2 linked regions of the Homo sapiens genome follow. The protein of the gene in region 2 purifies or fractionates together with the protein of the main gene of each other region. This does not show direct contact. Each region holds a gene or a part of one and is shown on either strand. Other genes may lie near its edges.

Region 1 (7,600 bases), on a different chromosome or scaffold from region 2:
GCATGAGCTGATGTTTCCAGCCTAATTTTTTAATCAACAAATATTTCTGAGCCACTCCCCTCCATGTATAAAACATGGCTCTAGGTGCAGAGGTTTTGTTTTGTTTTGTTTTTAAGCATGAGACTCAGTTCCCCATTGCAAGAAGCTTGAACTAACAGTGTAGAAGGCAAGTTGACAATTACAAAACAAGATGATCCACCTGTAAGAAAGGAGTGAAAAGGGTACTGTAAAAATACAAAGGAGGAAGCAATCAGCGCTACCCCAGGACCTGGTAAGGAAGAGGGGCTGTCAGGCAAGGTTACAAAGAGAAGGCAACATGTAAGTTTTACAGAGGAATCCACAAGGAAAATTTTAAGGATAATAATAAATGTTAAGGCACCATCACAATCACACACACAAAAAGCCCTGAAAAAAAAAAAGTCAGAGAAAGAGGAAGTTCTTCACCCAAGGGCAAACAGCAAGAGGAAAGGAGCTGGAAGCAACCCAGACTCTTGTCATCCAGCTCAAGGAGATTTTTTAGCTGAAATAAAACATCGCATAATATTTACACCCTTCCCCACCTGAGCTTGGGCTACATGCTCTACAAAGCAAATTAAACATCACCTGCCTGTCCTCTAAAAGTCTACAATCTAAAAACAGGCACACTAATAAATGAACAAATTCAAGAACTTTGATGACGAACTATCACCCAAAGACAGTGTTCTGAAACAAACACTTCTCAAGTTCAGTTTGGCCCCCAAAATGAGGATAATAAATTTTTGCCCTTCCCTTTGGAGATGTTAAATACCAAGGGGAAATATTAAAATTGCATGGACGGGTTCCTTAAAAGATTATAAATAGAATTACTATGTGATCCAGCAATTTCACATCTAGGTATATGTCCAAAAGAAGTGAAAGCAAGGTCTCAAGGAGATATCTGCCCACCCATGTTCACAGCAGCATTATTCACAATAGGCAAGAGTAGAAGCAACCCAAGTGTCCATAGACAGATGGAGGGAGAGGGAATGGAGAGTTAGTGTTTAGTGGACACAGTGCTTGTGTTTTGGAAGATGAAAAACGTCCATCTTTTTCATGATGATGGGGAGGGATGATGGTGATGGCTGCACAGCAATGTGAATGTGCTTATGCCACTGAACTGTATGTACACTTAAAAATGGTTAAAATGGTAAAATTTATGTCACATATATTTGAGCAAATAATACACATATACAAAGAAAGTTAATAAAAGAATTTGTGATTATGTTCAAATAGGGTGCATGTATCTAGCCCTAATTTAGCAAGTTTGAAGAAGGGAGAGATTACTGTGGAGTGGAGTGTTCCAGGACGAAGACACAGCCTCGAACCCAAGTTCTGATGGAAAACACTCCAAATCTGGGAGAAATGGTCAGGACTCAGTAAGCAGAAGTGGACAAACTTAGTTTAAGTAGAGGGTTTGTGATGGAAAGTGGTAAAAGAGTAGAAAAAAAGAGACTGGTGCCAGAATAGAATGGCTCCTTAAAAGCCAACTTTATGAGTTTGGATTTCTACCTCTACCCAGAGAAGAACCACTGGTGGCTTTTGAGAAGGGGTGTTATATGATGAACACAGTGGTTCAGTGTGGGATGGTTTGGAGAGGGAGATCCTTAGTTGATAGAAAGTGGACTCCAGGTCGCTTAACTTGAGGGCTACCAAGGTGACTACAAAGTCTACTAAATCTGAAACCTAACACGTGGTGCTGCTAGCTTAAAGCTATGACTTTAAAATGTATCAGGCCAAATGCTTGCACATGAATGGAATTCTTCTCAAAGCATACACAGAAACTGTTGACAGTGGTACCTTCTTAGAAATAGGGCTGAAGTTAGGAGAAGACTTTTACTCTTCATTGTATACCCTTGTATAATATGGATATATGTTTTAACCACGTACATGAGTTTATTTTATAATTTAAAAAGTTTTTTAAATATGACAACCAGGAAGCATCAAAAAATATTTGGGCTTTAACCAGCCAATTCAAAACATTTCTAAAAATAAAGTGAAATATATTTCAATCTTGTTTCTCCCATATCTTAATCTCCATCACATAGTATAAACGTTGTGGGACTGATCTAAAAGTAACAGTACAAAGTACACAGCACATCTAAAGCTTCGCTTCAAACAGATGTCATGAATCATCCCAAAATAAAAACATCTCCTTTTTGGTGTATTTAAATGAAAAGTCTGCCAAGACTATTCCAAGTCAACACCTCGACAAAAACAGAAATTAAAAAAAAATAGCCCATGGTACATTTGATAAAATACATCACCATCTCAGTAAACGACCTTTTTGTTCATCCAGTTGTTCAGGCCAAAAACAATGGAATCATCTTATTCTTTTTCTCTCATCCTCTATATCCAAATCTCATAATCTCTATACTCAGAACCCAACTGCATCTCACCAGGACTATCATCCTGATCCATCCTCTCGTCCTGAACCACCGCAGTAGCTTTCATGGGACTCCTTGCCTCCACTCTTGTGCCCCACAATCAATCCTCCTTAGGGCCGCCAGAAAGATCTGCTTGAGACACAAATCCCAACAAGTCACTCCCCTGCCCACAACTTCCAGTGGCTTCCTATGACACTTGGACTAAAACTCAAAGGTCACAAAGCCTGCACCATCAAGACCCGCTTTTCTCTCCAGCACTGTGGTTAGCTCTCCCCATGACACCCTGCACTCAGGCCACACTGGCCTCTTTGCTATTGCTTGGACACAGCAGTGGCCCCACGTTGGGGGCTTCCCATTTGGTATGGTTTGTCTGTGTCCCCACCCAAATCTCATCTTGAATTGCGGCTCCCATAATCCCTGCATGTCGTGGGAGGGACCCGGTGGGAGGTAACTGAATCACGGGGGTGGGTTTTCCTGTGCTGTTCTCGTGATAGTGAAGAAGTCTCATGAGATTTGATGGTTTTATAAAGGGCAGTTCCCCTGAACATGCGCCTGCCACCATGTATGACATGCCTTTGCTCCTCCTTTGCCTTCTGCCATGATTGTGAGTCATCCCCAGCCATGCTGAACTGTGATTCAATTAAACCTCTTTCCTTTATAAATTACTCAGTCTCTGGTATGTCTTTATTAGGAGTGTGAGAACAGACTACCACTCAACCTGAATCTCTTCTCCCAAACATCCCATGCCTCTCTCCCCACTTCATTTGAGTCTCAGCCCAAATGAAGCCCCATCAGATAGTGTTTTCCCAACCACCCTACCTGAAATAGTAGAACCACCCTTCTTTCCCTTCATATTGCTTTATTTTTCTTTTTAGCACTTGAAATTACAATATATATTTTTGTCTGTTGCTTGTCATTTAGTTCCTCTCTCCCCCAACTACAATGTGCACTCTACGACTTCAGACATTTTTGCCACATTCACTGTTACATTCCCTGGGCCTACAGCATGTCTGGCAAATTAAATGAGAACTCAGTAAATATTTGTTGAAGACTGACATACAAATCAAGGCCCTCAAGATCACTGGACAAAAAGAGGCTGCTGAAGTCCAAAATGAAGCATAAGCACAATAATGCCCAGTAAATTTGGGGTAAAGGAATGAAAAACCCAAAACATCAATTAACGGGCAGATGAACCCTTCATTTATCTATGGCATGCTACTGAGAATCCATTAATTCATGCTTTGGAACAGCATCTGTGCATACTCTGGAGGGCCATTCTTGAGGTTCTGTGGCTATGGTAAAGGGTAATACCATTAACAAGTGTCTTCTCTCCAGAACCAATGAACTTATGTGGAATATTCTGCTGAAGAAAAAAAGCAACCGCGGTCTCAACCAGAAGGCCCAGAATATTCAATTACTCCACTGAGAAGACCTGGAAACAGCCCCAGCCTCAGAACTAGGCAACTGGGTCAAAGTCAGGTTTTGGAATAAACTACTAGAGGGACATTGAGTATATAAATGTACATTTCTAATCCTGTTTTGTAACTGGAAACCAGGAATAATCAGATCTTCCCTTCACATGCTCATCATAAGATAAAATAAGATGATGTGTAGACAAAGGCATGCTGAAAATTGAGTGGACTATAGTTATCTGTGATCATCATCTTGTACTGGCTGGGATCTAATTCACTTTCTCTTCACTGCCACTGGTGAGCTTTGTCAACAAAGATTTCATCACACCCCTTTATGACTTAAAAACTTCCAGTGGCTCAAACTTCTTCACAGGCTGAACCCCAACCACCTTTCTGGTCACACTTCTGCCATGTGGAACTACACTTCATCCCCTAACCTAATCATGCTTTATTGTCTGTGCTGGGCAATTTCCTAAAGCCCCACTCGCAGGCCCCCTCATCCTCCCTTCTTCCATTATAGAAATCCTAGGCACTTTCAAAGGTCTTCTCATTCCCCAACCTGAATGAGATGTTTCCTCCTGTACACCCTCTCTCTCAGGCATCCTGTTGAATCACTGCTTGTTTGCAAGGCCATTTTCGCACCAGATCAGTGATTCTCCATCTGATCTCTTTGTGTGTCTTCAGCACATAACAGTGTAAGACACGTGGTAGACACCCAATGTCTGCTCTTTTTGAATACACCTCAATTCTCTCTCGGGCCTTTCTACCTCTAACTCTCTATGACTTATGACTCGAAGTCAGTATTATGAAAGGCCTTTTCTTGCTTTTCCACCCTTCTGGAAATATACTGGAAGATGAAGCTAATTGACCACTCCTAGGGTTCTTCTAGAAACAGGCTGGGACTCAAAAGAGGGACAGAATAAGGTTACAGACTTCTTTCTGGTCCACATAATTTATGCCTTTAAAGTATGCTTTGTTTTATTTGAATTGCTATACATTCTCAAGTGAGACACGCCCATATTTAAGTCTGGTACAAATGGAAAATATTTTCAAAGTATTCATTTTCGGAATTATTCAAGTTTCTTCTCCTTTTCACAATGGTGGAAACTCCTAAATTGACTATAATTCGAAGCAATTATTGTTCTTTAGCTATCAAGGTGCCGTTAGTCTCTTCATAAATATCCTGGATGATCTGAGCCTGGTTCAATGCAAAGCCTATTTTTTTTTCAGCCCTGTGCCTTTTCACTTGCTAAATTTATAACATTCAAATGAAAGAAAGGAAGCCCACTTTTGCCCCCACTGCTCACATGATATATGCTGAGTTTTAATTGCCCTTGTAATTCTACCCTCAGCCAGGTCTGCACAGGTATGATGTGGAAATAAAACATTATGGCAAAGCCTGAGAAGGGCTTGCTGAGGTAGGAAGAAGAGGGCTTTGTAATATTTCCTGCAACCAGGAAAAGGAAAGAGAAAAATGAAAGGTGGTCTGGGAATTTGATAAGCTAGCCAGACAATTCATTAAGGAAGCATTTTCTGTCTATGACCACCTCTAAGACTACGTGAGCTATAAAGGCTAGGGATCCCCTGATGGTTTGATATTCAGCTGAGGCTGGCTGAAAATGGAAGAATGTGGATCACTTGGCTGTGAATTAAGAAATACACGCAGCAACAGAGGGAAACACACTATGGCATTTTCTAAATATTTACCAAGGGGAGTTGGCAATCCGTGAGCAGAGCCAGATCTGACAGTTAATTCTCCTGACTGCCTCCTACGCTCTTCCTCAATCACTATCTCCATCTCCAAAACAGGTGACCTTCCCCTAATGGGGTGAAGAAGGAAGCATCTCTGTGATAAACCCAGCAAATGCCACATGATGATTCTGGCACACAGACCACTGCATCTACTCTTCTTCCTCAGATTTCTTATCTAAAACAGAGGAGTAACCTACGATCTGTCTGTTAAAATCAACTGAGTCAATACAAGCTGCTTCAAAGATAAAATTCTTCTTTCCACAGTCATTTTTGGCTTGTGATATCCATATGGTTTCAGAACCCAGTATCCATGAACTTCCTTGCCAGTCCTCATTATATAATCAAATTTCTCATCAGCCCACATAGCACAGTTATTTTCACTCTTGATCTTCCCAAGTTCATTGATAAATGTTAATCTGTAGGTCTCAGGTTATTTTTTTAAATTCTATAATTTTAAAATTCCATAACAAAGAAACATATTTTAAATCACTTTTTAATTAATTCATGAATTAGAGATGGCACCTCATTCTGTTGTCCAGGCTGGAGTACAGTGGCACAATCATAGTTCAGCCTCTCTAACTCCCTGGCTCAAGCAATCCTCCTCCCTTAGCCTCCGAAGTAACTGGGATTATAGGCATAAGCCACTATACCTGGCTTTTTTATATCAATTTTTTGTTTGTTTGTTTGAGACACAATCTCACTTTATTGTCCAGGCTGGAGTGCAGTGGCGCGATGTCGGTTCACTGCAACCTCTACCGCCCAGGTTCGAGCAATTTTCCTGTCTCAGCCTCCCGAGTAGCTGGGATTACAGGTGCCCACCACCACACCTGGCTAATTTTTGTATTTTTAGTAGAGATAGGTTTGGCCAGGCTGGTCTCGAACTCCTGAGACCAGCCTGACCAGCATGGTGAAACCCCATCTCTACTTTAAATCTCCCACTGGTCATGTTTCCTACCTTTTCAGGTCTTGAGCAGACAGTAAAATTTTGTGTTTGATTTTGAAATTAAAGTGCTGCTCTTCAAGAACAATTTGGTGATTGGGTTTAGGTTAAAACACGTATCTGACGGTCTCAACAGTTCTCTAAAGTCCTTCCCCATGCCCCCCAAAAATGGACATAATTACTTAAGATTTCTTGTCTCTAGATCGTAATGTGTATAACTATTGTTTTAAAATGTATACATGTGTACACCTTACAAGCAATGGGGGAGATTATAGAACAGTTTAGAGTTTAAAGCCTGAGACTGCCTTCTCTCCTGCTTATCCTCAGTACCTTTTCTTTAAGATTGCACTAAAATGAAAGGACTAGATATTAAAAACACATCCTCTCATAATCTCCTCCAAAGGAAATAAAATCTCAGTAGTTTGGTTAGGCAGAACTTCAGGAAGTAAACCATATTGGCCTTGAGAGTGAGACAGGAAAGAAATGAACTCGAGTAATAAGAAGTGTGGGTGCCATAGCTACACATCAATGATCAGGTACATTCAGTTAGGTCTTGCCTTTAAGCCAGTAAGTATGCACATGGAAGGCTGGGTTCAGTGACCTCCAGAATCCCTTCCCTCTCCAATAGTGTTTGCCTCATGAATTTTTTATAGCCATCCTCTGTCCTATCACACTGTCCCTATGTATCATCAAGCCCTCCTGGCCACTTCCAGGACTGAAAGGAAAATCTGTTCTTTAAAAAAAAAAAAAAAAATCCATGCTTTGACTCCTGCCAAAATTATAGTTCTGTCCTTGAAACAATGACCTGAAAATAATGGGTAAGGCTAAGAACCTCTGAGCAAATAAATGCCCAATATTATCTTCAGATAATATTTTTTAAGCTCCTCTGATATAAGCAGAACTATTACCTGAGGTCCTGGGAATGAAGATTATGAAGCTAGAAGACAAACAGTCAAATCTTCCCAACTTGTACTTTATATTCCCTGCTGAGTGTCTAACCTTAAAAAGAAGGTAGAACCAAACAAACTGAGTTTGAATCCTGGACCCATCTCTCATTAGCTGGGTAATATGAGGCAAGTTATTTAATCTTCCTG
Region 2 (8,037 bases):
TTAACTGGCAGAAAATAAGGGTGAGAATAAGAAGCTGGTGTAGGAAGACCTCACCTTAGGAAACCACAGTGTGTCCTGCTCAGGTCTGCGTGGAAGTGTGATCCAAGGGGCTTCTCCACCTTACAGGAGGATTTGCAGGAAGGTTCCCTTCCATTCCATCACTTTCTGACGGAACCAGCTCATACACAGCTCTGCAGAAGCACACACTCAGGTAAAGCGGGGCAGAAGACCCTGCAGGTGGCTCAGGCCACACCCAAGTAGCCCGAGTCTCATCCACATCTTAGCCCCATGCTTGTCGTTCCGAGGCAGTTCCAGAAGAACTGGTGAGTTTGGGCAAAACCAGGGACTCTGCCCCATGTTGTTCCCAAGCCACTGTCCACAAGCTTTCCTTTAATAAGCTCCATTTAATAAGCCCTTGACCCGGCTCAGCTGCTGGGCTGCACACCACGAATGTCCCCTGCACTCCCCCTGGGCAGCCACACACGGGCAGCAAGCCTGCTGGCCTCAGTGAGCTCCACGGCTCACCATCCCCCAGCCCACCTTCACGGGGCTCCCAGAGCTCTCGCTGTGCCGGGGATGTGTGTGCTACTTGACTTTCTGACTCTTACTGGAGATAATTTGGTTTTGGCAGTAGATGCCAGATGTAGTTTGTGAAGCAAAACTCAACCCCGCAGTTAACTCATATGGAGCGCCCTTGACTGCCTGGCAGATTCTTACCCCCGCCCACCAGCATGAGAATGAATTTGCATTTGAACTGTCCTCTCCAGGGCACTTCCAATCCAGAGACATTTGAAGGGAAGTCGGGGTCAGGAGGGGAATATGAGGCCAGGATCATGGCCCACCCACCCCAGGGACGGTCCCCATCTGGACCCCCAGGCGGCAAGTGGGGCCCAATGGGAACCTGACCAAGAAAACCAAGCTCTCAGACAGCCTTCCCTTCTGGCAAGAGTGGCACACATGACCAGAGACTATCACCAGAGGGGGTGTGATTCAAGGTTATAGCTTTACTGCAACTCAGGACAGTGAGCCCAAGCCAGGTGTTGGGCTGGGCCCCAGAACAAGGCTCAAATGCGGACTTGGACACACTTCGAAGGAGGGCTGCTCTGCCCCTGCTGTTCGGGCGTGGGGGGTGGGGGGCGGGGGCCACTGAGCTGGGCCTTCTGTCCTCCTCCCTGGATGTGCAGACATGGGCCATGGCTTCTGCCAGGACTCACATGTGAGCTGGGCCTTCTGTCCTCCTCCCTGGATGTGCAGACATGGGCCATGGCTTCTGCCAGGACTCACATGTGAGCTGGGCCTTCTGTCCTCCTCCCTGGATGTGCAGACATGGGCCATGGCTTCTGCCAGGACTCACATGTGAGCTGGGCCTTCTGTCCTCCTCCCTGGATGTGCAGACATGGGCCATGGCTTCTGCCAGGACTCACATGTGAGCTGGGCCTTCTGTCCTCCTCCCTGGATGTGCAGACATGGGCCATGGCTTCTGCCAGGACTCACATGTGAGCTGGGCCTTCTGTCCTCCTCCCTGGATGTGCAGACATGGGCCATGGCTTCTGCCAGGACTCACATGTCCTCCTCACTGAACACCAGAGACACCTGCTAACTTGGGAAGACGCAGGGTGAGGATTTCTGTTTCTCCAGCCCAGCCTGTCACCCTGTGGGAAGCAGCGAGTGGGAAGGGAAAGGGGAAGTCACATGTTTCTCACGCCGAGTTCCTTCCAGAATCCCAAAGAAGGCTCAGAAGGTTGTGAAGGAAGAACAAAGTCAGCTCAGGTGAGACACCCCTTCCCCACCCTCTACACTGGTGACACACCCAGGATTTCGGGGATAAAATGGGGCCATGAGGGATGTGGCCAAGCCTCCCAGGAACCAGCAAAGAGCACGCCTGAGTCCAGCAGATGCTCGCAGGGCTGTGACGTCCAGTGCAAGGGCACGTTTCAGCACTTTTTCTGAGGGCCAAAGGCTGGGCGATCTGATTAGCTGCTCCCACCCTAGAGACAGCCCGACAGCCTCGGCACAAGAGCAGGGCTGTAGGAAAGCCATCATCAACAAAGCCAGGCCCAGAGCCATCCCACCTTTCCCTGCAGGCTTAGGGTTTTGAGCTGAGACAGGGGCAGACTGTAGCCCCCAGTCCCTGAGGTTGCTACTTAAGGAGATGCTTTTGCAGTGAGGGGTGGGGCAGCAGCCACCAGGCTTCAGGTCAAGAGGAGGCGGCAGTCTCCCACTGGCACCAGCAGGAGGGGGTGCCACCGCTCACTTAATGTACTGGTTCCTGCCCAGGTGGGGGGTTTCCGTGAACTGTAATGCAGGGCCCGCCATCGTCTCCTCAAAAACGATGACCTGTGGAGAGAGGGCCCGGCTGGGAGGGCAGCTGACGTCTGTCCTGGAGCCAGGGGAGGTGCTGAGAGGTGGCAGGGTCAGAAGGAAAGGGTTTGGGAACCAGGCTGGAAGGGACAGGGACCAACAACTCGTCTGCAGCGAGGAGGAGGGAGGAAGAACCCGCTGACACGCCCCTCCACCCTGACCGAAGGCTCCCTGGGACGGCAGGTGGGCAGGGCGTCATGGGGAACAGGAAGGGGCTGGAAGCTCCCACCTGGTTGATTCCGCTGCTCAACCAGGGACCTGGGAGGTAAAGCGTCTTCTGGGGTCCAATGTTCCAGTAACGTCCAAGGTTCTGGCCATTGATGAATACAACCCCCTTCTCCCAGCCCTTGAAACAGAGGGGAAGGGTGTTCATCTACCACGAGAGCCACAGCAAAAGTGGAGGGAGACATGCATGCGTGCTTCTCTCAGGTCCAGGAGACCAAAGCGAGCTGTGTCTGGACAGCCATGAGGGTGGGCAGGTGGGATGCTCTATTTCCTGTCCCCCTAGTGCATGAGGTGTTTCTTCTGCTGGGAACCCACTCCTCTGGCCCAGGGAGGCCCCAGCGGCCCTCTCAGACCCTCTGGGCACAGAAGCCACCAACGACTCTCGCCAAGCTCGTGGCTTTGGCTCAGAGCCCTCCAAGGCGGGAGGCAGGTGGGAGAAACTGGCAGGGAAAAGGGCGTTACCAACCTCCAGCTTCAGAAAGGTGTCACAAGGGGTGGAGCTGATGGACAAGCTACCCAAGAAGAAAGCAGGTAATGTGGGTGTTTCTGGGAGGGAACTCCATTTGTCCAGGCCGAACCTAAGGACAGAACACAGAGAAGGAGAGGGAGGAGGCCCTTCTCAATCCACCAGCACAATAAAGCAAAATAAAAGGCCCTGACACCGTTTCCCCATCCAAGGCCCCCCGCCTCTTAACCAGGACACAGAATGGCAGCACGGTAGGATGCTGGGAATTCCTAGTCTGCAAATGCGGCTTCTAGTGCGGGTGCCACCCCTCACCTCGGCCAGCCGATCTGGCCCCTGGAGGCGTTCACACCTGGGTGCGGGCCAGGCCACGGTGCACCAGGGACCCCTGGGCCCCACCACACAGCACTATACCTGTGAGTGCAAGGGCTGGTGCTGGGCAGGGACCCACCTCTGAAAGAAGCTCTTCTTCATATCCAGGCTATAGATTCTGAAGTTTTTCAGGGGTGAATCATTCAGATAGAGATTTCCAATTAAGCCTGTGGGAGGGAGGCAGGACACGTGGGTAGCCCAAAGGCAGGGGCCGAGTCAGCTGGGCCGGGGCCACGAGGGGAAGCCCTGGGAAGCTGGGGTGAGGGGTGCTGAAGTGTACGCTCCCTGAGAAGCTGGGGTGAGGGGTACTGAAGTGTACGCTCCCTGGGAAGCCGTTCGCTTGCAAGCAAAGCTCCCTAGCAATTCTGTGGGGGACGGGAAGGAGGAAGACCCTAAGATTTGCCATGGGAAGGATATAGAGCTGAGGTGTTACAGGGCGAGAACAACCTCTGGCCTCTCTCTGAAGGAAGTTCCAGATGACCGAGAGGGTTCTGGCCTAGCTGCAGGGCCAGTTTCAGTGGGGCCCAAGCTACACAGACCTAATAACTCAGCCAGAATCATCTCTGCCACCTAGGATTAAAGCTGTGCATTAGGAGTGTTTGGACTGTGAGCAGATGGCACCCTCCCTCGGGCATCCAACAGGGAAGAGATGTGTCCTCTTGAGGAGCCACTCATCAGTGTCCCGGGGCCGGGCCAGCCCTGCCAGTCTCAGATTACAGAGCTGCTGAGTGGCTAGCTTGGGAATTTGGAGGCCGAGGACTGTGGAGAGGCTTTGCAGGGCCTACAGACTCCGAAATGGCAGGTGCGGGTCTATGTGGGCACGCGCATTTCTCAAGGGAGGTCTGTGACTTATAAACATTGAACTGTGATCCAGAGGACAGGACTCCACAGTGTGGGCCCAGGGGACCCTCAACAAGGGCTCAGGGAAGCAAAGTTAGGAACAATGGTCAGGCTGGTGCTCCTTCCAACTCCCAGGAGAACAACAGAAGTGAGGACAGGCCCAGAGAGGGAGCTGTCTAGGGTAAAGGAGTGTGGGCCTGGGTGGTGCTAGATGCCGCTCTGAGGCCCATCTAGAAGGGCCCTGATCCCCAGGATCCAGGCCCCAGTGTCTGGGCCACGTGGCTTTCCTGGCAGGCCACCAGACGGCTCTCGGAGGAAATGTGGACCAATAAGAGCTCTTCAAGTTTCCTCCGTCACAAACGCAGACACCGTGAGAGAGCTGGGAGGTCACCGGTGCTGCTCACCACAGTCGCATTCATTTTGTTCTGAGTTCTTTTTTTATAACTTACCTGAAACCACCCACATTTAGCTAGATTTTTTTTAAAAAGGAAGGGCTAAATTTGGGCACGGTGGCGGGCGCCTGTAGTCCCAGCTACTCGGGAGGCTGAGGCAGGAGAATGGCATGAACCCGGGAGGTGGAGCATGCAGTGAGCCGAGATTGCACCACTGCAGTCTGGCCTGGGTGAAAGAGCGAGACTCCGTCTCAAAAAAAAAAAGGAAGGGCTAAATTAAAGCATAAAAGATTTAGTAGGCCAGGAAACATAAAGCAAATTGGCGGCCTATTCCCAGAGGGGTACGCTACCAACAGGTGTTTTGTTTGCTGTATGTCCCGCATCCTCCTCCCCCAACATCTGAGATAAGCTTTCCCAAGATGGATCAAGAAGAGAACTTCAGTGTGGAGGCCCAAGAAGGCAGGGGTCTTGTGCCTTTCCTTGGATTCCTGGAAATCACATTCATTGCTCCTCACTGCCGCCCCCCCAAGCAGACATCCTTGCAGAAACCGACTGCAGCCCAGGGGAGACAAGAGGCCAGCTCAGTGTTCACAGTGTTTATCACGAGCACGCAGACGATGCACGCGTGCAGTGCTAACAGGACAGGGGCCACAGCCCAGCGGAGTTTCTCTGGCCCACTCAGAACTGGCCTCATGTATGGGACAACCCAGCCTCCACCTCCCTGCAAGAGGCCTCCATGGCCTGGTGGCCTGCTAGCATAGAGAAGCAATAGCCACCTGTGTGTCCAGCATGGCCACTCTTCTTTTGACACATTCTGGGACCCACCTTTGCGCTGGTCATCAATATTCTCCCCATAGTTGACTCGCCCACGATTCTCCACCAAGATCCTCAGCACGGTGTAACCCTGCCGGGAACACGGGGCTAACGATGACTGTCAGAAGGCCACAGCTGCCCCTCAGAATTTGCTTGTGGACCCCAGTTCTTCCCTACGCTCTGGGGATGGGAGTGTACATCCCAGCTGGGCAGAAAGCCACACTCGCCCTCTCCACCTACAGCTTGTGGGTAAGGAGCCACGGGTCTCCCAGGTTTTCCTCAGTGACTGCCCCCAGACTTCCTCGAAGCAGCGGGGGCTAGCCATCACCCAGCTCCCAAAAACAACGAACCTGGATCAGGGGGACAGCAATCTTCGTTGTCTTGTAGTCCAAGAATCCTATGGATACTGTGTTCACAAACACCTGCCAAAGGGAACAGGCAGGAACATCCATGACCAACAGGAGGAGGGTAAGCGGGACCTCCTCCAGGCCAAGAAGGGCAGCACGCGTGCCTGTAGGCAGACGAGGGGCCAGTGGGCAGAGCAGACATGAATGCCCCCTGAAGGCTCACAGAGCTGACTCAGAAGGGCCATTGTCACACACTGGTAAGAGCTGATTCTGAGGGGAGGGCATGAGACGCCTATTGCAGAGCTGCTCACCAGAAGGTCACAGGAATTTAGAAGAGAAGCTCCTACCTGCCCCCGATCATGCACGTGGCCACTGAGGATGCCAGACGAGGTGATGCTGGTCTCATAGAGAATGTACCCGAAGGACTGTCCATTTCCCCCATTGACTGGCAGGTTCTCCATGTTGATGGGCTTTTCAGACTTGATTGGCTGCGTACAGAAGAGATGGAGGGGTGGGCAGGCTCAGGAGGAGTGGGGTCACAGACAGACTCTGCCTGGGGGCTGGCACATGGGGTGGAAGCGGAGGTTTGGTGGGTGTTTTCTACTTTGACTTCTCATTGCACTAAACATACAACTCTCCAGGGTGACGGGGAAGAGGAGTGGGGCAAAGGGGTGTGCACCAGCAGAGTGCAGTCCGCAGGCAGGGGACACACATCACAGCCTCAGTCCGCCGGAGGAGGCACCCCCTTCTTGGGGAGGGGACGGCCTGTTCCTCTGCCCCTCACTCTCCTCTCTGAGGCTGGAGGAAGGAAAGGCCCACGGGGCCAGCCGCTGTTCCTCAGGGACCTCTGTTTCTCCCACTTCACACTCCAGCATGAGTCTGTCCTCTTCCCTCTGAGCTCCAAGGCCGGAGAGCAGACCCCAGAGCCACCAGGCACTGGCCTGCCTCCCCCCACACTCCCTGTCTGGAGGGGCTCCAGGCCCTGCTGCCCCGACGACTCTCACCTCCCGCCGACGACTGCCCCCAGCACTCACCTCCCTGCCAACGACTGCCCCCGGCACTCACTCACCTCCCGATGACTGCCCACAGCACTCACCTCCCCCAGGTACTTGAGGGCGTCCCACAGAGACAGGTACAAGACTGGCGTTAAGGGCTCATACGGCATCTTGGGAAGAAGGTCAGGTGGGGGAGGGAGAGGGATGCCTGCAACACAGAAAACAGGGTCACCCCCAACGGACCCAAATGTCACTGCCTGCTCGTCCTCCCCACCCGGCTCCCATCCACAGACCCGATGTGCTCCTGCGTCCCAGCACCAAGAGGAACAACAGGCTAGCTCTCAGCACCTGCTGAGGCCAGGGAGGAAGGCCAGGCCTGGGGGAAAGCCAGGGCGTTCTCCCGTCCTCCACAGGAGATAAGGAGCGTTAACACCTGTAACAGGTGAAGCCGGCAAGATGGAAACAGCCTCACACACCTCCCTGTCCTTGTCTAGGATATTCTTGCACGCAGATCAACTGGGGTCGAGGTGGGACAGTAAGGAAGTAACTCTTTAGGGGTCTGAGAGCAGAAGCGAGGGCCTGAGTTGGAACTTGAGTCTGCTGTCTGCTGGGTACCTGAGATGGAGCCGAAGAAGTCTCGAAGCTTCATGTACTTGGCCGTGTAATCGCCGGCTTCTGTCAGCACAGCATCATAGTCTGCAAGACACCGGGCCCTGTCATGGTCATTCCTGTCCCCAGCACAGCACATGTAGCACGAAGAACAGGGAGAAGCTTGGAAGGGCCACAGGTCTTCATCTCAGCCATTGGGGAGGCAAGACACTTTTGAGCCATTCAGTCAAAATACTGTAAACATGAAAGACCAGGCAACTACAACAAGCGTCCATAAGGCCAGGTGCAGCGGCTCACACCTGCAATCCCAGCACTTTGGGAGGCCAAGGCAGGAGGATCGCTTGTGCAGTGGCTCACACCTGTAATCCCAGCACTTTGGGAGGCCAAGGCAAGAGGATCGCTTGTGCAGCAGCTCGCACCTGTAATCCCAGCACTTTGGGAGGCCAAGGCAGGAGGATCGCTCGAGGCCAGGAGTTCCAGACCAGCCTGGGCAACATAGCGAGACCCCCACCTCTACAAAAAATTTTAAAAATTAGCCAGAGGTGGGGGTGCACACCTGTAGTCCCAGCTACTCAGGAGGCCGAAGCAGGAGGATCACTTGAGCCCAGGTATTTGAGGCT

The links.
Region 1: the proteins of GLB1L2 (region 2) and SPTB purify together in Homo sapiens (affinity purification with mass spectrometry; 2 studies listed by BioGRID and IntAct, with this or other methods). This does not show direct contact.

The regions. Positions count from the first base shown.
Region 1 is NC_000014.9:64,869,908-64,877,507, forward strand, and holds part of SPTB (spectrin beta chain, erythrocytic), read right to left. Parts: intron 2,772-7,600; exon of another isoform or gene 2,415-2,771; intron 1-2,414.
Region 2 is NC_000011.10:134,369,272-134,377,308, reverse strand, and holds the end of GLB1L2 (beta-galactosidase-1-like protein 2 isoform b precursor), read right to left. Parts: intron 7,505-8,037; coding exon 7,424-7,504; intron 7,017-7,423; coding exon 6,910-7,016; intron 6,302-6,909; coding exon 6,161-6,301; intron 5,889-6,160; coding exon 5,817-5,888; intron 5,558-5,816; coding exon 5,479-5,557; intron 3,589-5,478; coding exon 3,501-3,588; intron 3,165-3,500; coding exon 3,053-3,164; intron 2,708-3,052; coding exon 2,591-2,707; intron 2,338-2,590; coding exon 2,251-2,337; 3' UTR 985-2,250; downstream 1-984.